2 separate regions of the Homo sapiens genome follow, and region 2 is linked to region 1. Evidence: fine-mapped expression QTL. A gene starts in region 1. The other region holds a variant in brackets. All regions are shown on one strand. Distances are between the middles of the regions.

What was found. PIP is the estimated chance that this variant, and not a neighbour inherited with it, causes the effect.
Region 2: its variant is fine-mapped to the expression of RIGI in whole blood (TOPMed, PIP above 0.99). The same link has a PIP of 0.9 or more in T cells, blood mononuclear cells, lung and monocytes.

Annotation. Positions count from the first base shown.
Region 1 is chr9:32,517,722-32,534,873 of GRCh38, forward strand. It overlaps RIGI (RNA sensor RIG-I), which reads right to left and starts at 8,475. Exons shown (of 18, transcript NM_014314.4): 1 at 8,340-8,475. The coding sequence starts at 8,445. RefSeq lists an enhancer at 8,376-8,625.
Region 2 is chr9:32,450,800-32,464,676 of GRCh38, forward strand. It overlaps ACO1 (aconitase 1), which reads left to right. Exons shown (of 21, transcript NM_002197.3): 21 at 1-3,970. It overlaps RIGI (RNA sensor RIG-I), which reads right to left. Exons shown (of 18, transcript NM_014314.4): 17 at 8,572-8,715; 18 at 4,503-6,619. The coding sequence ends at 6,323. LOC101060445 (a long non-coding RNA gene) reads left to right here and starts at 8,243. Exons shown (of 1, transcript NR_197444.1): 1 at 8,243-13,877. The variant C/T (reference allele first, on the strand shown) is at 4,523.

The DNA.
Region 1 (17,152 bases):
AAACAGCTGAATCTTCTGAGTTATTGATCAAAATGCCCACGTATTAATTTTAAGGTTATTTAGGTGAACACCTGACATTCACAGGTTATAAAATGGTTAAGAAGGAAATGATGCAGAAATAATCTAGATAAACTGCTAAAAATAAATAAAATGTAAATGGTCAAATGCTGTAAATGAACTTTTGGCATAATCGGAAATATAATCATTGGATGTTTGAGTCATTTCCAATTAAGAAAAGGTTATGATGTGGGGAACATGTTTCTAAAAATTGTGGAATGGTTCTCATCTATAAAATACTAATATCTGCTAGGCAGCTCAAGATTTCTTGCTTCCTAGGTTTTTACTGAAATTTAAGGTTGTTACTAAGGATAAGAATTCTAGTTCATATGTAATTCTATATATAAAATGTGCAAAAGACAATGTGTTTTTATTCAGAAAAAAATTTTATCTAACTCAGAAGTTATCTAAAGTTTATTAATAATTATGGACTTGAAAGGTTACTTATGAAACAAGGTAGAAAAGAACAAGTAGACGAGAGAGATGTGGAGAAAGTTATGAGTATAAAGATGTATTTTTGGTAAGGAAGGTTATAAAGAAAATAATTTTGTATGACAAAGCATCTTATAATGGTATTTTTTTTGTCCTAAAGTAAAATGACTGTTTAAAAAAAAAAAAAGAAGAAGAAAAAGAACGAAAATCCAGGACAAATCAGAAAGTCTAAGCATATCATAGATGGTGTGTGTAAGTCATGTAGTTTCTTTCCTATTTCTTTGTGTGTCTACCTTTATGTACAGACAGAGAAAATACAAAGTATAAAAGGCTTAAATAATATTCTCTTAAAACCAGATAGAATATTGGAGAAATCTGGCTAATTAACACTGCTCATAGTTAAAGCTCTTAGTCTTGATGAAAGTAAAATAAGAAATATTGTAAAGAAACACATTGGCAGTTTGGCAATCCTTTCTTAATATAGTTAACCATGAAGCCAGATAAAAGCCAGATATAGCAACAACCAAATTTCACCTACATGCTTGCATTGCTTCACACTGTATTTGCTCTTCTGCATAGATATACTATCATTACAGTATAATACTTACTGGTCGGCCTCCTCCAGAGTAGCTGGGATTATAGTTGTGTGCCATCATGCCTGGCCAATTTTTGTATTTTTAGTAGAGATGGGGTTTTACCATGTTGGCCAGGCTGGTCTCAAACTCCTGGCCTCAAGTGATTCACCCATCTTGGCCTCCCAAAGTGCTGAGATTACAGGCCTGAGCCACCACGCCCAGCCTAAAGTGAATTTCTTAATTGCACAAAATATATAGTGGTATTGGTGAACTTAAAGACATTAAATTGTGCATCAGGAACAAAATATTCATCATGTGTTTTTTTGGCTCTGGGTAACACTATAGCCTCCAAGTTAAACTGAGTAGAAAATTTTCAGGTTGGTTTCCTGTTTGTTTTTTCTTTTAATTTGCATTTATTTGCTGTTTCTTCTTCTTTAGGTTTTACTTATATATACATATTAATAAAACCATTGATGGCTTTTAGTTTCTAATGTAAGGAAGGCTTTTATTTGGTTCCATGAATAATCATTTTGTTTCCTATGCATTTCCAGTATCTCATCATTTGCTCTACTTATCCAAAGTTCCTAAGCTACCTTTTTCAAGCTTCCAAAAATTGTTGGTGGACACCAGCCTTTAAAATTTGTTTGGTTTTGCTTACCTCTAATGAACTAGAGAGCTATAAGAACTTTAAGATTCCTGGCAAAAAATAATAAAAGGTTTATTCTTCTAAGTTCTGAACAGAAATAGTACATTATTATTGGTTATTTGGAAAAGTAGGTGAGAGAAATGTTTAAGTGGTGTTTATTTCCAAGGTAATTCAATTCAATAAACAATAGCGGTTTCAGATCTTTTCCTTTAATGAGGCAAAACTGCTATATGGGTACAAAGTCTTAATATTCAGAAAAAAATTGGCTTTGTCTTTAAGGAAATTATATTGATTGGGCTTTCTCTCAAACTAATTTAGTTGTGTTTACTATTATTAAGATTAAATAACATTTACTTGGATTAAGTCATAAAAAAAATTATAAGACTTTCTAGTGTTTTTTTTATCCTAAGCCATTTATCACTGATGGGCCTTCACATGTATACTTGAAAACAAAATATGTACATACAAGTGTTATGCCAGTTTGAAGATTCTAGTGGTGTAAGTCACTTAAATCAGTTGTCAGTACTTTATCTAGAAACCAATCTTGGAAATGTATGATGAGGCTCTTTCAAAATAGCTGAAAAGAAATTACTGTGTGCTTATTGTCACTTTGTCCTTGTTTTGTTGTATACTTTTTAAATGAAAGATTTATCTTCATATTGAATTTCCAAAACTGATACTTGCATTTACCATTTTTTTTTTTAATGATGGAAAGAAAAGTTAACTATCTTACTTTGGTAAGTTTGGCACAGGACTTACCACATTTTTGAGGCTCTAGGTCACAGTTTTGTCACTAGAATGCTAGCAGATAAATGCAAGGAGTAACCTAACCACTTTAATACAATGGATTGTATAATGGGTTGAAGTGTTTCAGACAGTAACTACTAGGCACCAAATCCCAGGGTTTTATTTTGTGACATATTAGAGAGAATGATGAGGTTTCCTGCAGTATAAATATGCTATTAAATAATTCTTAGGAAACAATTATTTAGTAATTCAAAGGCCTTTGACTCCTGGATCCAAAAAAGACACCAATACCTGCTAAATCTTGAGCACTGACACCAAATGAAGCCTCGTCTTCAGACTCAGGAGAAGGTGACAATCAAAATGAACTGCTTTCATGAGACATAGGGCTAGAAATTAAAACCATTCAATCCCTCTACGCCCAGGAACTATTGCACAAAAGGTGAGCACGTGAGCTTGTAAGGGCTGATTTTGAGTTATAAAATTAGTTCAGGGTTTTTCTATAAATTAAACATTAACATCAAAAGCACACTGATGCAAGGCCAATGTCTGGGCCCCTGTGTCATAACAGGGTTTTCTTGGAGCATTACTCTACTCTTTAATAGGAAATCGTAAAACGTTATAAAAAGATGGCTGGGTGTGGTGGCTCAGGCTGGGCGTGGTGGCTCAGGCCGGGGCTGGTGACTCAGGCCGGGTGTGGTGGCTCACGCCTGTAATCCCAGCACTTTGGGAGGCCGAGGCAGGCGGATCAGCTGAGGCCACGAGTTGGAGACCAGCCTGGCCAACATGGTGAAACCCCGTCTCTACTAAAAATACAAAAATTAGCCAAGTGTGGTGGCATGGCCTGTAATCCCAGCTACTAGGGAGGTTGAGGCAGGAGAATTGCTTGAACCCAGGAGGCAGAGGTTGCAGTGAGCCAAGATCGCACCACTGTAGCCTGGGCAACAGAGCCAGACACCATCTCAAAAAAAAAAAAAAAAAAAAAAACTTCACAGAAATCCTATCTTATAGTCAAACTGATTAAAATTCGGCTTATAAGGTTTTATTAAAATTAGCTTTAACATTAAAAATATACCATACAAAGGTAAAATTTGATGTTCTCTTTTGAATAAAATGTTTGTATAATATTGACATAAAATATTTGTTTACCTTTTGAGTGAACTGTGGGGGGAAGAAAAGGAAGAGGGAGAGACATTTAGTTGGCCTCATGCTGTCTTTATTAGGCCTTATTGTTGGGAAACTGAGTCGCCTATCAAAGGGTAAATGTGTTTGTTTTATCTTTTTGGCTAAATGAATAACTATTTTGTAGCGACCTGTGATCCTATTTTGTGATATCAAGTGTCTTAAATCTTTGATACTGACAGACTTCCCAACAGCAAATATTTCAAGTTCTAAATTCAGGGGGTTTTTTTTAACCTCAAACTAACTTTTTTGTGTATTAGCTTCCTTGAATTCCAATACAGACAGACATGTTAGGCTTCTTTGGTATATTAGAATTATACAGGCAGCATTATCAAATGTGAGGTGGTATTTAACTTCCTTTGGGTTATATTTGTATAGATGTGCTATTAATATGTGTTGCAGGACTATATGAGATTCCTAAAATTCTGATATGTCTTAATATATGGTGTCAGTAATGATGATTATTATGTTAAATTGTTGTATGCCAACAGAAAAAAAAATTTCCTTGTCAACTGTGTCTTTATGGCTCTCCTAAGACTTTTGTCATTGCAATTGTTGTTTTGCATTGATTCTTTTCAAAAAGTGACTTATAATCAGATATAGTCCAGAGCTTGTTTATTTAGGGGACTTCATGAAAAGGAGTCTTGAATGCAGATTTCTGATAACTTTGGAGACTGTGCCACTGGAATACAGAAAACTTCTAGGACTCTTAATTAGAGTCCCTCTTAATTAAAAGGCTGACATGTTTATAAAGATTACTAACCCAATATGAAACACAGCAGGAGTTGATTGCATGGACTGAACTAATGTGGGACTGAAATAATTTTTTATGGTTTTGTTTGAAAAAGTCTGGAGAATTTTTGTTTTTTGGAATCTGGAGAATTTTTTCTTTTAAGCTCTTCATAACCTTTAAGAATACAGTATATTAAGTAGAGTATACCCTTTTAAACAGAATTTGAGGCATTTTCTCTCTCCCTAATTTCTCCAGAATTTATAAACTATTTGTGAATATTCTTAGTTCATGGCAATGTGTTTTCTTGCATACATTTAATAAAAATCTGTTTTCTTTTATAAGGGGACACAGTTGGAGGAACAAGTTATTTTCCCAGGGCTTTGACTGAAATGGCCTTGTGAGAGGTTCCAGCAAAGCCAATTAGGAGAGCCCATATGGACAATAATTTTTGCTGCACTTTGTGTGGGTAAATAAGCCAAGTATATGTAACTGAGGCTTATTTTGCAGGTAGGCCCATCCAGCTGTGATATGTCTTTGGTGGAAGCGGGGAACAGTAATGATACAGATTGTGTCTCAGAAGAAAACTATAGTATTAGATTAACTTTTGATTCCTGGATGGCCACGTGGTCACCCATAGTATGGAACTGCCCACCACGCCATTCCTCAGCATGAAGCTGCCAGAAAGATTGAGGATCAGATTCCCCATGATCCAGGAATTGATAAATAGAAAGAGGGGGACTGAAACCAACACAATAGTCCCATATACAATTCTTTCGAATAAACATGGAAATTGACCCTCCTGATCTTAAAGCTGAAACTTATATTTGTTTTATCTGAGTTCCTTCCCCAGGAAAAGGACCCCCAGGCCTCTCAAAAGGTATAAAAGAACTGAAACTCATCAGACCATCACATCCAGACAATGAGACACCAGGCCCCTCATTTATCATGATTGCTTCCTTACCCCTCCAGAGTCCATTTTCCAACACCTAGTTATATTTCTTTCCTTCTATCCATACCCCTAATTTCAACGGGTCAGGGAGATGGATTTGAGACTGATCTCCTACCTCCTTTGCTGCAGCTCCCAATTAAAGCCTTGGCAAAACTTGTTGTCTCAGTGATTGGCTTTATGTGCAGCCAGCAAAAGAACCTAGGCTGAATCCCTGGTGTTTCAGTAACAATTGCACCCACTCTCATTGTTTCAGCAAGGATCTCCACATTAATGTCTCCCCAACTGTGGACCCTTTTCCTGAACTCCACACCTGTGCAGCCAACAATCTGATGAACATCTCTTCATGGATGTATCCAAGGCATACAAACCCAGCATACCTAAATCCGAATTTTTCTCCTCCTCCTGCAAACCTGTCCCTCTTCCCACATTTCCTATCTCAGAAACTACCATTTATTCACCCAAGGACCAAAGCCAGAGACCTGGAAGTCATTTCCACCCTGTCCTCACCCTTACCTCCTCACCACAACTCCCCAAGAGACCTATTGATTATACTTTCCAAATGTGTCTTGAATCCATCCATTTCTCCCCATTCCTCCGGATTCCTATTTTCCTAACTGGTATCCTTGCTTCCAGTTTTTCCACTCTGCTGTCCTGGCATCATTGCATCTGCCATTCTCTCTCTCCCTGTCTTGTACCTATTCAAGCCATTCCTCAAACTGAAGTCAAAGTCGTTTTTCTACAATGCAAATTCTATTTTGGTCCCCTCTCCTTATCACATTTCAGTGGATAAAGTCCAAAACTGTTCATATCCCACTTCTGCTTGCCTGTCAAGTTTCATCTCTCTGAACTCCTGCCTCTCTCTCCACAATGCCACCATACTAATATTTTCTGGATACCTGGAACACTCTAGTTTCTCTTTCACCTTGGACCTTTGCACATAAGGAGCCCTCTAACTGCAATTTATTGTCTCCTTCCAGCTAATTTTTCCTCTTTCTTTAGACCTCAGTTCAAATGCCAAATATCTGGGAAGCTTTGGCTGTGCCCTTTGGACTCTAGTAGACATCCCAGCTTTTTTCCATCAAAGCACTGCTGCACTTTATTATTTACTATTTTGTTACCTGCATTCACATAGACACACTAATCACTATTAGGGCAGGGACAGTTTCTACTGTGCTCATCATTGCTTCCTCAACTTTCAATGACACTATTAGGTAATAGGTGCTGAGTAAATTACCTCCAATGCTAACATAATACTGACACGAGTTGCTTATTTTATTCCATCAAAGTGTATCAAATCAATATATGAGTGCATGAAAAAATGGAATTCACACCAGTTGTTAGTGTTTCTTCCAAGTACTTCTTCAGGTGCCAAGCTACACTGGTCACTAGAATGCCATTCCACAACCTTTCTTTTAGTTTTGTAGAGCAATTAGCATTCAAGTTAGTTGCCGGTCTTAACGCCATTTCCAAAAACTGCAATAACATCAGGAAAGACTGGCACTTGGAGACTTTTAGGATTCCCAGGCCCCCTCTCATCGACTTTTTTTTGTTTTTCGGTTTTTTTTTTTTTTTTTTTTTTTTTTTTGGAGACAAGAGTCTCACGATGTCACCCAGGCTGAGTGCAGTGGTGCGATCTCACCATAACCTCTGCCTCCCTGGTTCAAGCGATTTTCATTCCTCAGCCTCCTGAGTAGCTGGGACTACAGGAGTGCACCACTACGCCTGGCTAATTTTGTATTTTTCGGTAGAGACGGGGTTTCACCATATTGGCCAAGCTGGTCTCGAACTCCTGACCTTGTGATCCACCCGCCTAGGCCTCCCAAAGTGCTGGCTGCAGGGAGCCGAAGGCCCTTGGGATGTGACCAACTCAGCATTCCGCTGGAGGCTATATGATCAAACAGCAAACTGTTTATCATGAATGCAGCACCTGGGCAAACTCACACTGCCTTGCCACCAAATGGTTTGCTGAGCGCCTCACTCCCTGGCGCCAGGCTCCTTGAAATTATTTATTGAGAAATCTAGCACCTATTGTTCAAAGAATGCAGTCTTGCAAGCCTGCTGTGAATCAAGCAGCCAGCCAACAAGCACCTCCCCTTCTCGCTATCTCTTTTGCCTAATAAGAAGGGCTGTGTAAAGCTCAGGGCCCTTGTCCACTAGAGGCAAGGTGCCCCCTGACCCCTTCTTCCAGATATACTCTTTTGTCTCTTGTCTTTTATTCCCGCGTTCGCCCCTCTTTGTTCAGTCCCCTAGGTCCGTGCGGGTTACATAGTGGCACCCCGAACAGCAACAGCATCGGGTGCTCTACAGCTGGGATTACAGCGTGAGGGACCACGCCCGGCCTCATCGATATCTTTTAAGTACCACCTCCTTTCACCTCTTTCCCAGAAGCCTCTGCTCATCTCCAGCACAAAGTAATTCGATACAAATTTACAAAATGGTCATTACCCAGGATCACCTGTCTCCGAAGTTAGATGGAAACACCTGTATTAAAGCCTAAAGCTATTCGGTCTGGAAAAGTCCGGCTCCTCTCCAGCTTCCACTTCTTTAGGCGTGCAAATAAGATTCGGCAGAGTAAGCATCAACTTCCTTTAAGCTCAGACCGCACTTTGTGCTCAGTACTGTAATTATCTGCCCTTTGTGTCCCATCCCTTGGACTGTAATGTATACTAAGGAAGAGCCCTTATCTTATTTCTCAATCTCTGTCAGTACCCAGCCAAGCACACAGTAGACTTTAATATTAGTGAAAATAAATGAAACAAAATTTCTTCCCCAGCTTTGAACCTAAATAGATGAGCACCCTTAAGCAAGTCACTTCACCTCGCTGGAACTCAGTTTCCCCACCTAGGCCTCCGAGGGCTCCTCAAACTCTGGCAACCTCTAGCCTAAAATGCTGCGGAGATCTTACCACAAACCTGGGGAGTCTGGCAGGCTCTCTGCATTGATTAAAAGAAGGGAACGAAGCAAGAGAAAAACAAGTCCTCAATTGTTTTCCGCCGAGAAGGCGCCGCTGGAGACACTCACCCTCCCTAAACCAGGGGGCCATGTAGCTCAGGATGTAGGTAGGGTCCAGGGTCTTCCGGATATAATCCTGGAAGGCTTGCAGGCTGCGTCGCTGCTCGGTGGTCATGCCGGCCTCTGCTTGCAGCTAGCTACGTTCCCCGCAGGCTGTGCCTCACTAGCTTTAAAGCCGGGTAGGAGGAGGGCGTGGCGAGCGGGGAAAGCAGGGATTTTCCGAGGAAATGAGGCCGGACGCGAGGCGGAGCTGCATAGGAACTTTAATAACTAAAGGGAAAATCGAAAGTGCAACTAGCGGCGGGCGGGGTTCGCGGAGGCTGTTTTGCCTCGGGCTAGTTTCGTTTCCCTCCGCACCGAGGAAGCCCGGGAACGGAGAGGACCCCTAGGAATTGCTTTTATTTTTATGATCTTATATTTTGTTTTGCTTTTATAGCGCTAACGTTTAGACACAGTAAAATGCACACAATCTGAGTGTGCAATTCGATGAGTTTTGTAAAGTGTACACCTGTGTACCCAGTTCTCCCACGTCGGCTGGGTGCCAGGGTAAGTCTATGTTTAGCTTTATAGGAAACCGCCACCTGTTGTCCAAAATGACTGATTACATCCAGTTTACATTCCCACCCGCAGTAGGAGAGCTCCAGTAGATAGACACATTGGTCAGCCTTTCTTTTTTTTTTTTAATTTTAACTTCCATCTTGGTCGGTGTGAAATGGTATATTATTGTGGTTTTAATTTTAATTTCCCATATAATTAATGGTGGGCACATTTGCATGTGCTTACTGGGTCATTCATATATCTTTTGTGAAGCATCTGCTCCAATCTTTTGCCTGACTTTGGAGTTTTTTGGTTTATGGATTTACAGGAGTTATTTATTCAGGATACAAAATTGTTAAATATATGTATTCGAAATATCTTCTTCCAGTCTGTGGCTTACCATTTCATTTTCTTAAAGGTGTCTTTTGAGGAGCAGACACTTATATTGATGCAATTTTCAGGTTTTTCTTCTGTTTGTTGTTTTTTGTGTCCTCTTTAATAAATCTTTGCCTACCCCAAGGTCATGAAAATATTGTTTCCTTTTAGATTTATATTTTTAGCCTTTACTTCTGGGTCTATTACTATCTCAAAATAATTTTGTTGTGGCGTGAGATGGGGGGTCCAGGTTCACTTTTTCCATATTTCTAATTGTTTCAGCACCGTTTGTTGAAAACTTTTCCTTTTGGCATTGGATAGCCTTGGGACCTTTGTAAAAAAACCAAGTCCATTGAATGTATATGTGTCTATTTCTGACTCTTGTTATATTCTACTTCCTACTACTTTGACAATACCATTGTCTCTAGGTTACTTTAGATTTCAACTAAGTCTCAAAATCAAGTACTACTAAGTTCTCCAAATTTGTTTTTCACTGTGAAGATATTAGCTATTTGAGATTCTTTGCATTCCTTTTTTTTTTTTTTTTTTAATTTCTTTTTTGAGACAAGGTCTCACTCTGTCTCCCAGGCTGGAGTGCAGTGGTGCAAACAGGGGTCACTGCAACCTTGAATCCCTGTGCATTTCCATATGAAATAAGAATCAACTTGTCAATTACCCCTTCCTTCCCCCAAAAAAAGTTTATGGGGATTTTGATCAAGATTGCATTGAACCTACAGATAAACTTGGGGAGAAGTGACATCTTAACAATATTGAGTCTTCTAATCCATAAGCATGGTATGCCTTTTCATTTACTTAGGTCTATAATTTCTCTCAGCAGTATTTTAGTTTTGTTTCATTTTATTTTACAGACGGAGTCTCACTATGTTGCCCAAGCTGGAGTGCAGTGGCTATTCACAGGCACAATTATAGTGTGCTACAGCCTTGAACTCTTGGGCTCAAGGGATCCACCTGGACTCAAGCAATCCTCCTACCTCAGCCATCCAGAGTAGCTGGGACTACAGGCACGGGCCATCACACCTGGCTATTCTGAACTATTTTATGTTATTTGATGCTACTGTCAATGGAATTGTTTTTAAGATTTCATTTTCAAATTGTCTGTTGCTACGGTATAGAAATACAAATGATTGGCTGGGTGTGGTGGCTCACACCTGTAATCCCAGCACTTTGGGAGGCTGAGGTGGGTGGATCACCTGAGGTCAGGAGTTCGAGACCAGCCTGGCCAACATGGTGAAACCTCATCTCTACTAAAAATACAAAAAATAGCCGGGCGTGGTGGTGGGCGCCTGTAATCCCATCTACTCGGGAGGCTGAGGCAGGAGAATCGCTTGAACCCAGGAAGCGGAGGGTGTGGTGAGCCGAGATTGCACCACTGCACTCCAGCCTGGGCGACAGAGTGAGACTCCATCTCACACACACACACAAAAAAAGAAATACAAGTGATTTTTGTTTTTTGACCTTAAAACATGCAACATTGCTAACTTCACTTATTTGTTCTAGTAATTGTTCTGTAAATTCCTCTAAGTTTTCTAGATAAATAATGATGTCATTTGTGAATACATACTTTAACTTCTTCCTTTCCAATCTTTATGCCTTTTATTTCCTTTCATTATAGTTTTTCTTTTTGAGACAGGGTCTCACTTTTGTCAACCAGGCTGCTGCAGCCTCCACCTCCCAGGCTCAAGGATCCTTCCACTGCAGCCTCCTGAGTAGCTAGGACCACAGGTGCACACCACTACACCCAGCTAATTTTTGTATTTTTTTGTAGAGATGGGGTTTCGCCCTGATGCCCAGGCTGGTCTCAAACTCCTGAACTCAAGCGATCGCCCATCTCGGCCTCTCAAAGTGCTGGGATTACAGACATGAGCCACCATGCCCAGCCAGTTTTACTTCTTTCTTTCCGGTCTTCATGCTTTTTGCCTCCTTTCTTTATTATGGTACCTCCTAGAGCCTCCTATAGAAAATAGAATAAAAGTGGTGACAGTTGACACCATTACTTTATTGCTAATTTCAGTGGGGAAATCATCAATGTAATAATAATCACTTTAAATAATATGGTAGCTGTAAATTTTTCTTAGATACCTTTTATCAGATTGATGAAGTTCTCTTTTATTCCTAGTTTGCTGAGTTTTTATAATGCATGGGTGTTGAATTTTTCAAATGTTTTTTCCTGCATTTATTGAGGTGATCATATATTCTGTTAACATACCAAATTTCACTGATCAATTTTTGAACGTTCACCCAACCTACCATTCCTGGGATAAATCTCATTTGGTTTTAGATACAAAGGATGCTATATCATGACCAAATGAGTATTTTCATAAATACTTTTGTGTCTGTGTTCATGAGGAATATTAGTCAATAATTTTATTTTCTTGTAATGTGTTTATCAGGTTTTGATATCAGAGTTATGCTAGTCTCATAAAGCAAGAGTTTGTTTCAGATTGGTATCATTTTCCCCTTAAATGTTTAACAGAATTCACTAATAAAACCATTTGGGCTTGACATTTTCCTTGTTTGAAGATTCTTTATAATGAATTCAATTTCTCAATTAGATATAAAGCTATTCTGACTTTTAATCTTTAATCAGTTTTGATAAATTGTGCTTCTCAAGTGTTAAAATAATTGGTAGGCCATTAGACTGATGTAGCTGTAACACCCTCATGAGGAAAATGAAACTTAGTTTAGCCAATCACAGTTGGCTAACTGGGACATTGGTTATATTGTCATAAATTTCTCACTTGGATAGTCCAAATAAGGCAAACACTCAAACTTTAACCAATGAAACAATTTCTTTGCTCTGTGTCCCTTCAACCCCCTCTAACAGAGCCCCAGACCATTTCTGGTTTGTAGCTGCTTAATTTATGAATCACTGCTGGAACACCTTAATTTTTTTTTTTTTTTTTTTTTTTTTTTTTTTTTTTTTTGAGACAGAGTCTCACTCTGTAGCCCAAGCTGGAGTGCAGTGGCACAATCTTGGCTCACTGCAGCCTTCACCTCTAGGGCTCAAGAGATTCTCCTGCCTCGGCCCCCAAGTAGCTGGGACTAGAGGCATGTGCCATCACACCCAGTTAATTTTTTTGTATTTTTTTAGTAGAGACTGGGTTTCACCATGTTGCCTGGGTGGTCTCGAACTCCTGAGCTCAGGCAATCCACCCACCTTGGCCTCCCAAAGTGATGGGATTACAGGTGTGAGCCACCACGCCTGGCCAGCTTGAAATTTTAATGTGGAAAAGTTTATATTTTAACACAAGGAATTTGATCATTTCCTCTAAATTGTTAAATGTATTGGCATATGGTGTTCGTGATAGACCTTATTATCTTTTTTGCCTTTTTAAAAAATCAGTCTTGCCAGGGATTTACCAATTGCATCTTTTCAAAGAACAAACTTTTAATTCAATAATTTTATTTTTTTAAGAGACAGGGTTTTGCTGTGTCATCCAGTAAAATGGACTCCTTGGATATACGTTAATCAAATATAACTTTAACCTCTTTTAGCTATAACTCTTTGTATTCTTTTAGCTATAGGTCTCTCTCCATACACACATACACATATATATTTGTATACACTCTACATATTATTTTATACGTGTGTGTGTGTGTATTTAGTGGTTGCACTAAGGATTATAATATGTATCCTCAACTTAATCTATTTAGAACTAATATTGTACCACATTAGGTAAAATATAAGATCATCACAACCATGTAATTCCACCCCATCCTTTTTGCTATCATTGTCTGAAACTGTACTTCTATATGTTATAAAATACATACTACAATAATACAATGTTATAAACCTTGTTATAGCTTGTTGTCTTTTAAGTAAAATAAGAAAAAAATTAGTTTTTGTTTTTCCATGCTGTTTGCTATTTCTGGTGCTATTCATTGCCTCTGGTAAACACTGGTTTCCAACTAATGTTATTTCACTTCTGTCTTCTCCAATTTGTTAAGGCTTCCAGTAACTTTTTCATTTTAGGTTTGTTTTTGTTTTTTTTTGTAGTTCCAGGATTTCCATTGTTTCTTTTTTCTACTTCTCATGTCTCAGCTGAGAACCACTATCTGTTCATTCATTAAACCATCTTTTCCTTTAAGTTCATACACATATTTCTAATAGTGTCTTTAAAGCCCTTGTCTGTGAATTCCATCTTGGAACCTGTTTTGGTGACGGCTTTTTCTCTTGACTATGGGTTCATTCACATGTCTAGTATTTTTTTTATACTGGATGCTACAGATGTATTATAGAATCTCTGGATTCTATTATTTTACTCTCAAGAGTATTACTTTTTGTTCTAGCATTCCACTGAATTACCGATGAATTACTTTAAACTTACAAAGGCATTGTTTACACACTGTGGTAGGTCTGTTTCAAATTTTGCCCTTCTTGCAAGGTAAGTCCTTAGTCCTGAGTCATAGTCTTCCACAGTAAGCTGTGGCCCTGCATGTTCCAGTGAAAAGTCCTACATGTTTCTCAGCCCATCTAAGTTGGTGGGATTCAACCTCCAAGTTCTATATTCCCTGTGGTGGTGGCTGAAATGTATCTATTGAGCCCTTTTAGCTTTCCAGCTATTGCTTACATGGGCTTTTTGGAATCTTCCCTGCACATGTACATTTCAGGGTCAGGTAAAGATTTGAGTGAAAGTTATACAAAAATTTTAGGGCTTGTTTTCTGTGTCTACTTTCTGAAATTTCTCCCTCAAAATGCAGTCACTCGGGCAGCCCCAGGGTCCATCTTCTGACACAATGTCTGTGGCTCTCTGCTTGCATTCTAGTCTCCCTATGGACCGGGGATGACCCTCAGATGAAATGCCAAAGAAACTGTTCTTATACAGTGTCATCTCCGTCTTTCAAGGGTCTAATTCCCTCCAGTTTCTGCTTTTTGATTGCCCTCCAGTGGCTTCAAGTTCTTTATACCCTTATGTTTTGCCTATGTTTATAATTATTATCTCATGCAAGCTACTCTTCCAATACCTGGATTTGGGTTTTAGCTGAGAAAAAGAAATCAGATCCAAAATTCCTTTAAAAAGGTAAAGACATGCCTCCTTCTATGCTACTAGTGGGAAATAATGTATTCCTGAATAACAACAGATTTAGAAAACATCAACAATTACAGTATAGATTATACCTGAAAGAACTGAAGGTCCAGAAATGGAATCATTTGACAGATTCATAGGTAAAATTTGACCAAGGCCAGGAAAGAAGGGGAGTGTCACAGAAGGATAAGATCACAGAAGGATTAGGTGATATCTTATCACCTAATACCTAGGTGATAGGTTGATAGGTGCAGCAAACCACCATGGCACACATTTACCTATGTAACAAACCTGCACATCCTGCAGATGTACCCCAGAACTTAAAATTAAAAATTAAAAATTAAAAAAAAAATCTCAGTCTTAGACCATCTCCTCACCTGGGCATTAATTTACTCAACACATTTACAGAATATCTACTGTATGTCAGGTACTGTGAAAAACACTAGATACATGGAGATAAGTGGAAAAGAGTCTCTGTCAAGAGCTTAGAGTCTGATTGAAGGAGGAAGAAGACACAATAAAGATGTAAAAACACAAATAGTAACTGCCAAATGTGAAGTGACATGGAGAAAACTATTTCAGTACAGTGGTAAGGGAATACCTTTCTGAGGAGGTCACATTTCAGCTGAATCCTGAAGAATGAGAAGGAATTAGCTATTCAAAAAAAAGCAGGTAGGCCGGGCACAGTGGCTCATACATGTAATCCCAGCACTTTGGGAGGCCAAGGCGGGTGGATCATTTGCAGTCAGGAGTTTGAGACCAGCCTGGCCAACATGGTGAAACCCCATCCCTACTAAAAATACAAAAAATTGGGTGTGGTGGCACACACCTGTAGTCCCAGCTACTCGGGAGGCTGAGGCAGGAGAACTGCTTAAACCTGGGAGACAGGGGTTGCAGTGAATCGAGATCACGAGATCACGCCACTGCCCTCCAGTCTGGGCAACAGAGCCAGACCCCGTCTCAAAAAAAAAAAAAAGCAGGTAGGAGACAGAATGCACAGAAGAGTTTTTTAAAAAAAGTGAAAGATGCAAGATGCTTGTAGCTGGAACTCTGTGAGCAACAAGTAAATGGTATTGCAAGTGGAGCTGAAACAGCAGCACCTTTAATGCAAGGAATGAAGTGCAGTGAGAACATACTGCAGGGTTTGTTGTTGTTGTTGTTGTTGTTTATTTTTTTTGAGATGGAGTCTTGCTCTGTTGCCCAGGCTGGAGTGCAGTGGTGCCATCTAGGCTCACTGCAAGCTCTGCCTCCCGGGTTCACGCCATTCTCCCGCGCCCACCACCATGCCAGGCTAATTTTGTTTTTGTATTTTTAGTAGAAACAGAGTTTCACCGTGTTAGCCAGGATGGTCTCCGCCTCCCAAAGTGCTGAGATTACAGGTGTGAGCCACCGCGCCCGGCCATACTGCAGGGTTTTAATCAAGGAATAGCATAATCTGATTACATTTTTTAAAAACCTCTCTGGCTCCTAGCCAGAATGAGATCAGTTGGGAGGTGACTCAAGTAAGAGATGCTGAGCAGCATAGATAAGGACACTGTGGCAGAGAGTGTAAGAAGTTAATTGAGATATATTTTAGAGACAGGATTGAGTGGCTGGCAGAGGAAAGGAATGAGAAAAATCGAGGATAAATTTCAGGTATCTGGTTTGAGCAACTGGGAGAATGGTATTACCATGACTAAAGTGGAGAATATGGCTTTAGAGCTTACCACATTCTAGTGAGGGAGACAGACAGAAAAGTAGATGTTATATAGTAATAAGTGCTGTGAGGAGAAATAAAGTAGAAAAAGGAATAAGGAGTAATGGGGCTGCTTATATTAGATGAGTTGGTCAGATCACGTAAACAAGCTCAGGCCAATGTGCTGGAGGATGAGAAACCACATAGAGCCCAGTAACCCCAGGTGAAGGCTTAGATCAGCCGACCTACAAGCTGACTGAAGACACACAAGAATGCCAGTCAAGACAGTCTTGGCAGGCAGTATCTCTAAGAACTAATATGACGCAGATACTGGTTTTGGTAAACAGGCAGGGTTTCTGTTTGAGCCTGTGCTGATCATAACTGCCCAGCCAGTCACTCAATCCTATCTCTAAAATATATGGGTGGTAGAGAGAAATAGGTTTGAGGAGAAAAAGGTGTAAAGAAGCCATTTTGTCAAATACAATGAGCAAGAATACTACAAAAACTTGCCCTCTAATGTCGTACAGCTTATGAAGCTGATGTACACCAATCTGCACGGTTACCAGTTACTGATTTCCTTCACAATACTTAGCAGCATGCACGTACGCAGAACCGAAGAGCTGGGTTCATCCAGACTGAGATCTTGCTAGGTAAACTGTAGGCCAACTACAGCTTGCATTCCAAATCTGGCACGTGTCTTGTTTTTGTACAGACCAAAAGCTAAAAATTGTTTTAACATTTAGAAAGTGTTGTAGGCCAGGCATGGTGGCTCACACCTGTAATCACAGCACTTTGGGAGGCCAAGATGGGAGGACTGCTTGAACCCAGGAGTTTGAGACCATGCTGGGCAACAAAGCAAAGCTCCACCTCAATTTGAAAAAAAGTGTAGAAAAAAACAAAGATTATGTGACACAGCCTGTGTATGGCCCTAGAGGAAAAGTTTCCCAACTCCTAAAGTAGGTAAATGATGAAAGAAAGAAGGGCAAGTGAGTTGGAGGGTATTGCAAGGAGAGTGATTAAAACATTATCTGGAAAATCATAACTGGACATGAAGGAAAGCAAAGGAGAGTGACTGATAGAGTAGAATCTAAAGATGGTACTTCCCAGTCCTATATTCTAAAAATCCTATTAGATTTCCTTGGAGGCAGCCTAACCTGCTCCACCAAGGCAACGGTTTCTAACATAAT
Region 2 (13,877 bases), 69 kb before region 1:
CTAATTTGAATGAAATGAAATCTATTTTCAGTGAAAACTTGTTGACTTTGAGTTTTGCTGTGTTTGTGGCTAGAGTTTTGGGATATTTAGTACAGAGTGAATCTCACACCATATCATTGGGAAGCCTGAATAACCTTCATATTCTCCCATTTTTACAACTCTATCAGAACTGTACGGGTATAACGGAAATGTTTAGGAACCATTATGCTCGCTCTTCCCTGTTTGGGAGCAGACAAGAAGGAAGAGTAGCCTGGTGGCAGTGGCAACGATATAAGTACATAAGGAAAAGCAGATAAACTTCAGGACACTAAAAACCAATTATCTGCTCATTTTTACCCCTGTAGTCATTTCTGGGCATGCCTTAGTTTGCTTGGGTTGCTATAATGTAATGCCATAGACTGGCTGAAAGAACAGAAATGTATTTTCTCACAGTTATGGAGGCTGGAATTCTGAGATCAAAGTTGAAGCCACTTCATTTTCTGGTGAGGACACTCTTCCTGGTTTACAGATGGCCACCTTCTTGCTTGTTCTCACATGGCATTTCTTTGGTATGTGCCTGGTGGGGGAGAGAGAAAATAGGCTCTCATGTCTCTTCTTACAGCAACACTAATTGTATTGGATCAGGGTCCCACTCTTATGGAGACCCAGGAAAGCTGGTGGTATAACAACTTGGTTCAAGTCCAAATGCCTAAGAACCTGGGGAGGGGCATGGGGAATGCTGGTATAAGTCCCAGAGTCTGAATGCCCAGGAACAAGCAGGAGCTGTGATGTCCAAGGACAGGAGGGCAGGATCTTTGTAATGAATTTTTAATGTCAACCTTAGCACTCAGGGGATATGGCCTGGTCATCAGAACATCTGGAATCTAATCCTCTTTCTACTTCTCACCAGATGAGGGATCAAGACAGGTTATTTAGCATCCCTGCACTTGCGGTCCTGGGGATCTTATTTATATTCATTTAAAAAATAAATTACAAACAAACAGCCAGGCGCAGTGGCTCATGCCTATAATTCCATCACTTTGGGAGGCCGAGGTGGGTAGATCACCTGAGGTCAGGAGTTCTAGACCAGCCTGGCCAACATGGTGAAACCCCGTCTCTACTAAAAATACAAAAAATTAGCCAGGTGTGGTATTGTGTGCCTGTAATCCCAGCTACACAGGAGGCTGAGGCAGGAGAATTGCTTAAACCCGGGATGCAGAGGCTGCAGTGAGCCGAGATCGTGCCATTGCACGCCCGCCTGGGCTACAAGAGCAAAGCTCCGTCTCAAAAAAAAAAAAAAATTACAAACAAACAGAACTCCATTGTACAAAAAAACCTGTGATCCTCAAGTTAAGATCAGTCCTAGAATAAAAACACTAAGAATGGCTGAGAAAACAGACCTCCACCCTCTCAGCTCTCCATTACTGAGCAGCTGGGGAGCTGTCTCGCTCCCCGCATTCAGTGGCTCCTGTGGTCTGTATTTTTGTATCCTCCCCAAAATTCAGGTGGTGAAACCTTAACCCCCCAGGTAATGGTAATAGAAGCTGGGGCCTTTGGAAGGTGATTAGATCATGAGGGTAGTGCCTTTTAAAAGAGACTCAAGATAAGATAGAGACCCCCTCATTTCTTCTGCCATGGGAGAACACAGCAAGAAGTCACCATCCGTGAACCAGAAAGTGGGTTCTCACCAGATACTGAATCTGCCAGTGCCTTGAACCTAGACTTTCCAGCCAGAACTGTGAGAAATTTCTATTGTTTATAAGCCACCCAGTTGATATTTAGTTACAGCAGCCCAACCAAGACTGTGGTTATGAGGAAACAAACACATTATTGTGGCTAGACTAATGGAATTGGGTCCCTTACCTCCAAGTACACCCTCTGTCCTTTTCGGTAAAAATATCTTCGCCAGGCACGGTGTCTCATGCCTATGATCCCAACACTTTGGGAGGCCGAGGCTGGAGGGTTGCTTGAGCCCAGAAGTTTGAGACCAGCCTGGGCAACACTCTACAAAAAAAAAAATAAATAAATAAATAAATAAAATAAATCAGCCAGGTGTGCACCTGTGGTCCCAGCTGTTCAGGAGGCTGAGGTGGGAGGATCACTTGAGCCTGGGAGGTCGTGGCTATGATTGCTCCACTGCACTCCAGCCTGGGCAATAGAGTGAGACCCTATCAATCAATCACCACCCCCCCCCCCCCCAAAAAAAAAAGTATCTTGGCCAGTGTCTCAACCTTGCCCACTAACAAGCCTAAATAAACCAACTTCTTTTACCTGGTTCTTTAAGGGCTGCTCGTCTTACTATCCAAATTAAAAATCTGCTGTTCTCCCTCCCATATTCTTTGCGAATGAAGATTCCCCTGTTTGTTTGGATAGTTTTCCAAATTCATTACTGCATTCCTGGCATCCGCAGCAAGCTAAGAGTTAGTTAATATTTTTAATATAGCAAATAAGGATGAGGGATGCCCTTCATGTGTATTTACACACCAGATTTTTATGGTACATAGGGAGTAATCTAGGGAAAAGATATATTAGGCATGAATCTTAGCTGTGGTAGAAGCACAGCTCAAATTAGCTTAAGGAAAAAAAAAAAAAAGCTGGCTCATAGAACTTGAGGACAGTGGTGGCCATGACTATGGGCTTGATTGGATCTAGTGACTCAAGCTCCCTTCCATTTGCCCCTCCAACCACCCCCCCATCCCTCCACCAATCATACCTTCTGTTGGCCTCTGCAGTAGAGTGGCCTCTTCTGGGCCCTTCCACATGCCAGGGGATATGGCCACCAGCAGTTCTGGGGAAACCATTAGTAATTTGTGATCGTAGAGATTTGTCTCCCAGTATTCCCTAGGGCAAAAATATTGGGAGTTCCTAGTCACCTAAATGAAGAACCTTATTTTTAGCAGTTTCCCTTTCAGGGCTCTAACAGGACTGTGGAGTAATGTACGGGGTTATGTAGGAGCAATGCAGAGCCACTTTTGAAAAACAGTAGCCAAGGTTCTACTGGCTGCCTTCTTAGGACATTATTAAATATCATAAACACAAGTGGAATTTAACACCCAGCCAGTTTGTGTTCAACCAGACAGCGTCATTATGAACAAAGATTATATAACGATAGCTGATATTAAGTAAGTTTTAAAAGTTGACATCCCAAGAGTGAAGCCTACTTATTCAGTACAGATTTGTTGAATGAAATTCGTAGTTTTATTTTACGGCATAATGAAACAGAGTTCCAGACATGTACCTGCCAAATTTGGTTCTGGTTGTCTTATCGTATGCAGGCTGGATACCTGCTACTGTGCTTCTACAGGATGTTAACAGTGTCCCCTGAGTAAAACAGTTCCACGGTCAGTACATTTGGGAACCACTGAGTTAAATGGGTTTTATCACTGCAGAACAGACACAAGAACAATGTGTGCTGTAAATCACTGTTTGCAGGGAAGGTGGCAGCAAATGGCACAGAAACCCACCTGACCACAGACTGCTTTCTTCTGGGCGTTCACGCACTGTGCTCCACAGGATACTCTTGAGAAACATTGAGCTATGGTTGGTCTGTTGTTTGAAATTCAAATAATAATGAATCCATTTTAAGGACAGGAATTGGTTTACTGACCTTGATGTTGGGATGACTCTTCATTTCAGGGTGAAAATATCACAGCATCAGCACAGGCCAGGACCACAGAGATAACAAGGTGGTAGTTGTGTAACAGGTTGTGTCTGAACCACAGGAGCTTCAAAACATACACGGCTGGACACCCTGCCAGGATGCTCTAATGGGGCTGGGCATGTGTCCATGAAAAAGACTCCCCAGTTGTTTCTAAAATGTGGCCTTTGTTCTAGAAATGCAATGACCAGCATTTGGGAGTCAGTCAAAAGATCCACTTCCTAAAAGCCTACCTGCTCATTTCTTTCATTCAATACATATTAACCAAGTGCCTACTTTGTTTGAGTCCATGCCTGGCAATGACATTATTCCATTAAAAGTCAAACAAGGAAATGCTAAGTTCTCCTTATTTATTTTCACTTCAGTCTGCCTGCCTCAGTTGGCTGAATAGGGCTATTCACCTTCATCCAAATTGAATCATTTACATACTTAAAAGAACTTTTCTTGGCCAGGCATGGTGACTCACGCCTGTAATCCCAACACTGTGGGAGGCCGAGGCAAGTGGATCACTTGAGGTCAGGAGTTCAAGACCAGCCTGGCCAACATGGTGAAACCCCGACTCTACTAAAAATAAAAAAATTTAGCCGGGTGTGGTGGTGGGTGCCTGTACCCAGCTATGTGGGAGGCTGAGGCAGGAGAATCACTTGAACCTAGAAGGCAGAGGTTGCAGTGAGCCGAGATCACACCACTACACTCCAACCTGGGCAACAGAGTGAGACTCCATCTCAGAAAAAAAAATAATAATAATAACTTTTATCTTATTAAATCTATTTCTAGTAGATGTTTTACACATCCTATTGGAGTTCTTAAACAATAGTGTATTAGTCTGTTTTCACACTGCTATAAAGAACTGCCTGAGACTGGGTCATTTATAAAGAAAAGAGG[C/T]TTAATAGATTCACAGTTCCACATGGCTGAGGAGGCCTCAGGAAACTTACAATCATGGCAGAAGGGGAAGCAGGCAAGTCTTACATGGCAGCAGATGAGAGAGAGAGTGTGTGTAAAGGAGGAATTGTCAAACACTTATAAAACCATCAGATCTCATGAGAACTAACTCACTATCCCAAGAACAGCATGGGGACAACTGCCCCCGTGATCCAATCACCTCCCGTCAGGTCCCTCCCTTGACACATGGGGATTATAATTCAAGATGAGATTTGGGTGGGGACATATAGCCAAACCATATCAAATAGCAATTAAAAAAAATCACATAAGAAAAGACACTCTTAATAAAATACAAATAGAAAATGAAAAAAAACCAACTCATAAACTTGGTTTAAATAATCCATTTGTATTGGGTCTTAGTAAGAATACTACTACTAGTAACTATTATCAAGCAACTACTGTGTCATGTACTTTTCACACATTCTTTTAATTAAAAACTCTCCACTAACCCTTACAGTTCAGTATTATCCTTGTTTTACAGATGAAGAAAAGCCAAAGAGAAGTTATATAACTGGCAAGTTTCTCTGGCTCCCCGCCTGCACCACTGCTCACCAGATTGCATGAAGAGGGAGGCAGCTGTAACACCTCATCCCGTTGATCTCCAGGGAACTCAGATACTTGTTTCCACGTCCAGGAAACCGCAAACTAAGCTCTTTGAAGCATCAGCAAACCTTGCTAAGTGACACGTGAATGCCATTTGGATACATATTCTAATCTTTCAAGTAGAAAGGACAGTCAGACTGCCTCATCTGTAACATCCAAGGGATCTGAGAACAGACATTCAGTCCAGGTGTTGAACATCAACATCATTATAGGAAAATGGTCAAAGAGAACAATGGCACACGTTAAGAGAACATATTAATAGGGCAAGATGTATAGTAAACTAAGTTTTCAAGAAGTATTTTATCATTTTTATGCTCTCTACTAAAAGCTGACCACTGTAGAGTGGATACACATTGCTACATACAGCAACTCTACAGTGGACAGCTTTTAGTAGTAAGCATAAAAATGGCTTTATGTTCTCATGTTCTCTGTGTAGCCATACCACACGTTGCTACACCAGGAACATGAGTACATATAACCATTACATATACATACCTGTATGTATGTATATTAGTTACATATACATATGTACAGTATATACATGTATATATATTGAACCCTTGGAAGGGATCAGCAAAGAGGAGGACTCAATAAAAAAAGACTAGAATAGAACTAGAAGAGAGAGAAGCCCAGGGAGAGCTTCAAGAAGAGTGCTCAACAGGGCCAAATGCGCAGAGGTCAAATAGAAGGTTAAGAAGTGCCCAGTGGATTTGGCAACCAGAGTCACTGGTAACCTTCAAAAGAACAATTTCAGTAGATTGTTAAGGGCAAAAGCCAGTTTACAGTAGGTTAAGGAGACAAAGGGAGATAAAAATTCCCAACATTCCATTCATTCATCTATCCCAGTGTGTACAGAGTGATTACTGTGTGTTTGTTGGCAGTTGACTCTAAAAAGAAGGCTAGAAATGAGGCTTTTTAATTTTTCCCAAGTACTATGAGCTCTGTTGGCCTACAAAATACTCAGTGCTGTGATTCACTCATTTGTGCTTTGCATATATAATATAGTACAAACTGCTAAAGATATTTTTAAAAAATATATTTTCACAGGGGTACAAGCGATCCATGATTATACCCACTATGTTTGTTTCTTCTCCACTCAAAGTTACTCATTCCCTGTAGCTGAAGATTGAGGACCTGATATCATTTGGACATTTCTGCTGGATCAAATGGTATCTTCTCAAAATGAAAGTCCTTCCACTTCGAGTACAGTGTCTGAACTCCAGTTGCAATATCCTCCACCACAAAACTTTCAATTTTTATAACTGGAATCTCAAATGTCTTGTACTTCACATGGATTCCCCAGTCATGGCTGCAGTTCTGTCGGGCACAGAATATCTTTGCTCTTTTTTCAAAACTTGAAAACTGCTTTGGCTTGGGATGTGGTCTACTCACAAAGCATTCCTTAAAAGCATCTCCAAGCACAGTGTAATGGCATTCCTACAGATGAAGGGATGGAATAACACACAAAAGAGAACGTTAGAACCAGTACATAATTGTGATTTAAAAAAAAAAAAAAGAAAACCCCACAATAATCTGAGGCAAAGAACAGGTGGGTCTCACTTATTTTACAATTGGAGGAAAAAAAAAAATAGATTCACCCAAAGTCCAGAGGATCCATGCACCTGACTCCCCTCTACAGGCAGGGTGGGGTTGCAAGTGAGGACACTGGGCACCTCATAAAGAAGAAGATTAAGAAGGTTCCAGGTAACCCAGCTTCTGAAGGTAGATACTCATTATTCAAAAACAGAAGCGATGTTTGCTGAAAATTTGTGAAGCTGAAGTTCACCAGTGGCCCTGGCAGGCACAATCCAAAGGATACAGGGAAAACGACCAAGGTCAAGATGCAATTGAAGAAGGTCAGGGACTAATGTGTCCACAGGCCCCACCTAGAGTCAACTTTAGAGTAAACAGCTCAGAAACAAATGCAGATCCAACATACTAGTCCCTCAGGAAAACATAGGGTCTAAAAGGGCCATTTTTAGTAGAACAATCACCCAAATTGGAGCTGAAAGGACCTTTTACAGCTAAAGAAGCAGACTTAGAAAGGTAAGGGAACTTAGCAATATGACTCCTAATAGGCTTTTTGCCCAAACAGCTGAGCTGATGAGAGATTTCTGCTTTCTGAAGACGAACGGAACATCCTGAAGTAATAACTCCTCATCTGAGCCAGCCCAGCCCCTCCACTGTGCCCCCCATGCAAGAGTTATACCCCATATTTCTCTTTGGAGATTTTTCTAACCCTTTCTCTGAAAGTTTTAAGAAAGAAATATAAGGCTGCAATAGAAGGCTAATCTGCAGATGTCACATTTTACAAATAAGGAGATATTTTGTTTTCATTATAAAAGTGATCCATAGCCCAAAAGGAATGTTTGGAAAACATAAGGTAGTAGGAAAAGAGAAAAAAAGTCATGGAATCTCACCACCAAAATATTAATACATTTTGGTATAGTTCCCCTAGCCTTTGTTTTTCTGTAGCAAGGTAGGTTTTTTGACTTTTTCTCTTGACAATGACAATGAATGTATTTGCTGCTGTTGTTTCACACAGCTACAAAGTAGCATCTTTACAATTCTGTGTTCTGGTTACTTTTTTCCTTATTACCATTAGTTTGTAAGCAGTTTTTCATTATACTACATAAACTTCATAATTTTTTAAAATAAACTTTACTTTGGAACAATTTTAGATTTAAAGAAAAATTGCAAAGATATCCCAGAAAATTTCTGCATACCCTTTACCCAGTTTCCCCAAATGTTAACATCTCATATACCACAGCACATTTGTCAAAACCAAGATAATTAACATCAGTACATTACTATTATCTAAACTACAGATTTTACCACTCTTTCTCTAGTTGTATCCTTTATCTGTTCCAGGAGCTAATCCAGGACACGTCATTGCATTTAGCATGACTTTTTTTTTTTTTTTTTTGAGACAGAGTCTTGCTCTGTCACCCAGGCTGGAGCGCAGTGGCGCGATATCAGCTCACCGCAACCTCTGCCTCCCGGTTCAAGCGATTCTCCTGCCTCAGCCTCCCGAGTAACTAAGATTACAGCCACCTGCCACTACGCCCAGCTAACTTTTTTATTTTTAGTAGAGACGGGGTTTCACCATGTTGGCCGGGCTGGTCTCGAACTCCTGACCTCGTGATCGCCCACCTTGGCCTCCCAAAGTGTTTTGATTACAGGCATGAGCCACTATGCCTGGCCAAAAACTATTTCTTTATTATTGAACATTTAGTATTTTTTTTTCACTTCTTAGCTTTTTTTAAATACACAGATCATGGCCACAGTAACAATGGAAATAATAGTAGTTTTATTATAAATATTTCACCAACAGTAAGCTGTAGCTAGTGCTAAAACATGACCAGGCACTTTGTAAAAAGGCAGCTTACCTCTATCACTCTTACGTCAGCTGTGTAACATGCCAAGGCTTTGCACTTTCTGCAGAGCAGTTTTTTATTTTCCTTATCAGGTACAGGTTTTGGTTTTTCTTGACTATCTCTGATGAATTTTTCATGAGTCTGTATATGCAGAATCTAATGCAAAAAGAAAGACCGCAAATGTAATTTGAGTACAACATATATAGCAAGAAACAGGCACAGATACGTACAATACATATACATGCACGCACATGTATAATCATTCATATACAACTTCCATGAACATATGGTACCTGACTTTGTAAAATCACAGATTTTATTGGTTCTCCTAACTTAGTATTAGTCAATGCTTAATTGTGGCCTCCAATTAGTCTTTCAATTTCTTCATCAAAAATGCTCATAAAAGCACTAAAGATGTCCATAGAATAGTCATATGAACTATGCTTTCTACTTTAGTGTTTGGCAAAACTTGGGAAAAAAAACAAAACCTGTACCAGATATACAATATGCGCTGTTTCAGGCATAATTATATCCATTTGCAGGCACAAACTCAGTGAGTGATACAACAGGCAGAAGAGCCCCTGATATGGTTTGGCTGTGTCCTCACCCAAATCTCAACTTGAATTGTATCTTAACAGAATTCCCACGTGTTATGGGAGGGACCCAGGGGGAGGTAATTGAATCATGGGGGGCCAGTCTTTCCTGTGCTATTCTTATGATAGTGATTGTGTCTCACAAGACCTGATGGGTTTATCAGCGTTTCCACTTTTGCTTCTTCCTCATTTTTCTCTTGCCGCTGCCATGTAAGAAGTGCCTTCTGCCTCCCTCCGTGATTCTGAGGCCTCCCCAGCCATGTGGAACTGTAAGTCCAATTAAACCTCTTTGTTTTCCCAATCTCGGTTATGTCTTTGTCAGTGGCATGAAAACAGACTAATACAGCCCCCAACATCTAAAACCTTTTTTCTCTCTCCCCTTCAGCCACAGGGAATATTGTTGCATATGTATAGTATGATTGTATTCTAATTCAAAATCTAGGCCTTGGCTAAGAACATGGTCCAACTTAGAACCATGGACATGATATTATAAAACTCTTCATACCAATAAACAGAAAGATCTCAAACTGAATGAAAAAAAAAGACAATCATAGATGCCAACACTGAGAAGAGAAAGATTTTAAAGCACCTAATAAAGATGCTTCGATGGGCAATTATAAATACTTTTGAAACATAAAGAGAAAACATAAAGGCTCAACAATGAAATGGAAGACATAAAGTTTAGAACTGAAAGATACAACCAAAATAAAAAGTTCAATGGATGGGCTTTCCATAGCAGAATGGAAGGGACAAAGAAAAGAGTCAGTGAACTGAAAGAACAACAGAAATTACCCAATCTGAACAACAAAAAAATACACTGGGGAAAAAAAAAGCGCAAAGTCTCAAGGACCCGTAGGACTATAAAAAATGATGTCATGGCACTGGAGTTCTGCAAGGAGTGAAGAAAGAGCAGGGCTTAAAAAGTATTCACAGAAATGACCTCCAAATATATCCCAAATTTAACAAGCTACATCAACCAGGATTCAAGAAGCTGAACAAGCTCCAAACAGGATAAACCCCTTCAAAAAACACTCTAAGACAGGTTATAATTAAATTTATGAAAACTGAAGAAAAAAATCTTGAAAGCAGCCAGAAAAAAAAAAAAAAATGACACCTTACCCATAGGGGGAAATCAGTCTGAATAACAGGAGATTTGTCATTAGAAACGATGGAGGCTACCTGGAAGTGGCACAATATTTTTTAAACGCTGAAAGAAAAGAACAGTCCACCCCAGAACCCTAGACTCAGCAAAATGCCACCTTCAAAAATAAAGGAGAAATGAAGACATTCTTAGATGAAGGAACACTGAGAATCTGTCATCAGCAGATTTACCCTAAAAGAATGGCTAAAAGAAGTTTTCTAAACAGAGGAAATGATAAAAGGAACCCTGAAGCCTCATGAAGGAAGAAAGAACACACTGATTTCCTCCATGTCTTCTATGGAAGATTCTGTCCGTCCCACTGGTTTATGGTTTATGGTGGCGCCTCTCCATATCAGATTATGCTTTCACGTGTCCCAGGTGGATCCAGACAGCCTAGGTGCAAATAGTGTCCCTGTCACTTAGCAGCTATGTGATTTGGGGCAAGTGCCTCGTTTCTTTACATACAAAATGGGACAATAGCATCTGCTTCACGGACTGTCAGGAGATAACATGAGTTTATGACTGCTCAGGCCTGCCCAGCACAGGGTAAATGCCCATCACCGTTGCCTCTTCTCTGTTAGGCTAGTCTTATGCTAAGAGCCATGAAAATGTTAATGGGGTGGCTTGTAGTTTTGTATTGATAAGGCAATCTCCATTCATTAGGGATTGCCTTATCAATACGAAACTACTAGCTACCCCCATTTTTATTTTTCTAGAAATATAGCTATTTTCATCTATTTATTATTTTATATAAACTCTAGAACCATTTTATCAAGTTAAAAGTATCATTTATGCTTTCAATATGGTTTGTGACACGTGAATAAGCAAATTTGGGGTGAATGCACGTGTTTAAAATATTCAGTCATTCCATTCAAGAGCATGGCATTTCTTTTATCTTAATATCTCCCAGTAAAATTTTTTTATTTGTCCTCATTTCTGCTTCAAACTTTTCTGATTAGGCTGGTAGATGTAATGGTGAAACAGATGGGTTCTACCAACTCTACCATGAACTAGCTGTGTGATCTACTGGCACTGAAGCTATTCAAGTCTCAGTTTCCTGCCTATAAAATGACATAGGAGGCACTACTGTATGGATTGCTGTAAAGCCTATTGATGTAAGTAAAGCATTTGCAGGGACTGTTGGAGAGTCAGTGTTCTACATGCATGAGCTACACTTATTGTCACTGCGAATGGAAATCTCCCTCCCCCTTATATCTTTTAATTGGTTACGGATCATACATAGATAATATATTGATTACCATACCACTTCAAATTCAAATTTGCTTTATATAAAAAAAAAATTAGATCTAGCTTTTTTTTTTTTTTTTTTTTTTGAGACAGAGTCTCATTTTGTCACCCAGGCTGGAATGCAGTGGCACAATCTCAGCTCACTGCAACTTCCAGCTCCTGGGTTCAAATGATTCTCCTGCCTCAGCCTCCCAAGTAGCTGGGATTACAGGCAGGTGCCACCACATCCAGCTAATTTTTGTATTTTTAGTAGAGATGGGGCTTCACCATGTCAGCCAGGCTGGTCTTGAACTCCTGACCTCAGGTTATCCACCCACCTCAGCCTCCCAAAGTGCTGGCATTACAGGTGTAAGCCACCACACCCGGCTTCCTTTCCCCCACTCCCCCTTTTTGAGATAGATTCCTACTATGTTGCCCTGGCTGGACTTGAACTCTTGGGCTTAAATGATCCTCCCATGTAGCTGGCGCAATAGGCGTGAGCCATCATGCCCAGCTAGACCTAGAATGTTTTGATTTAAAAAAACAAATATACTGGCTGGGCACAGTAGCTCACGCCTGTAATCCCAGCACTTTGGGATATGCCGAGGCTGGCATATCACTTGAGTCCAGAGTTCAAGACCAGCCTGGGCGACATAGCAAAGCCCCATCTCTACTAAAACTACAAAAATTAGTGATGCGTGGTGGCACACACCTGTAGTCCTAGCTGCTTGGGAGGCTGAGATTGCAGTGAGCCAATATCACACCACTGCACTCCAGCCTGGGCTCTGTCTCAAAAAAATAAATAAGAAATAATTAAAAAATTAAAAACCAAATATAATTTCCCCTTCCCCACTTCTTGGCCCCATCCCACCTGAAATTATCTTCATTATTTTTGTAAAAATAAAGGGTGTCCAGGCCTCCTGTTTTTAATCCAATTTTTCAGTTGTAAAACTGTTACATTATATGTATTTATCCCATTCTTTCCTTTGGACAAATTTCTAGAATTGAAATCCCTGGGTTATATGATACACATTTTCCTATGAGCAATTTTAATTTTCTTTTTTAATTTCTTTTTCAGATATGGTTCTAATCACTACTTAAGCAGAATAGAGGTTACCAGGAAAGAAGGTGAAAATATAACCTTGCCTTTCAGGCATCCAACTTTTTAAAAAAATTCACTTATAATGGTATTCAATTATATACTGAAATTCAATTAAATACTAATAATCTCAAATATTTTAAGTGTTACTCTAGGCAATAGGTATAAATCCTAATAAGTTAAAACTATTACAGCTATACTTAAAACTAAGTAAAAATCAATAACTGGGTAAAGAGGCTCAACCAATCATAAGTTAAGTCTATGGCATACTGACCTTCACCCATGCAACCTGTGGCTAAAGAAGCAGCCTAGCTCCACACACTGAGGTGGAGAAAAGCAAACTATCTTAATTATGTGTAGTCATGGGTATGCATGTTGGAAGTTCTTTGTTCAGAATGAACTTTCTTTCACCCCATCTTTATTCTCTGCTCCATGAGGAAAGAAAAACAGCTTCCTCCTCATTCTGATTTCAAATAAACCTTCACAACCACAACTGTCATACCGTTCATCCCTTATTCCTCCAGAATGAAACACCACCAAATCCTGAAGCGTCCACCATGGAAATCAGTTCTTGGATACCTCTGGGCTGTCTACATGTTAAGATGGCTGCAGAGTGACCAGAGAATTCTGGGGCGGGGGATGGGGAGTGCTCTAGTGACAGCAGGCCACACACAGACAATGGACAGTACAGCTGGGGCGCTGGGGAAGAAAGCAGTCTGCCAGTACTCTGCTCATCCCTCTCCCTTTCCTGTTCTTGCAGATTGCCCTAAAGAGCTCCAAGCTTTTGCCCTCTGTTCTGCAGAGTTCCTTCCTTCCGTTAAAACCCATATACAGGGACCAGGATGCTCAAACCCAAACCCCAAACCCTTATCAAAGCACCCACAAAAGGGGGGCTCACCCCTAGAACCATAATTCCCTTTAGTCTTAAGAATATAAGATTTTCCCTACCTCGTTATACTTTTACTAAGCCTTTTTTTGTTTGTTTTTTTGAGACGGAGTCTTACTCTGTTGCCCAGGCTGGAGTGCAGTGGCGCGATCTCGGCTCACTGCAAGCTCTGCCTCCCGGGTTCACGCCATTCTCCTGCCTCAGCCTCCCGAGTAGCTGGGACTACAGGTGCCCGTCACCGCGCCTGGCTAATTTTTTGTATTTTTAGTAGAGACGGGGTTTCACCGTGGTCTCAATCTCCTGACCTCGTGATCCACCCGCCTCGGCCTCCCAAAGTGCTGGGATTACAGGCATGAGCCACCGCGCCCGGCC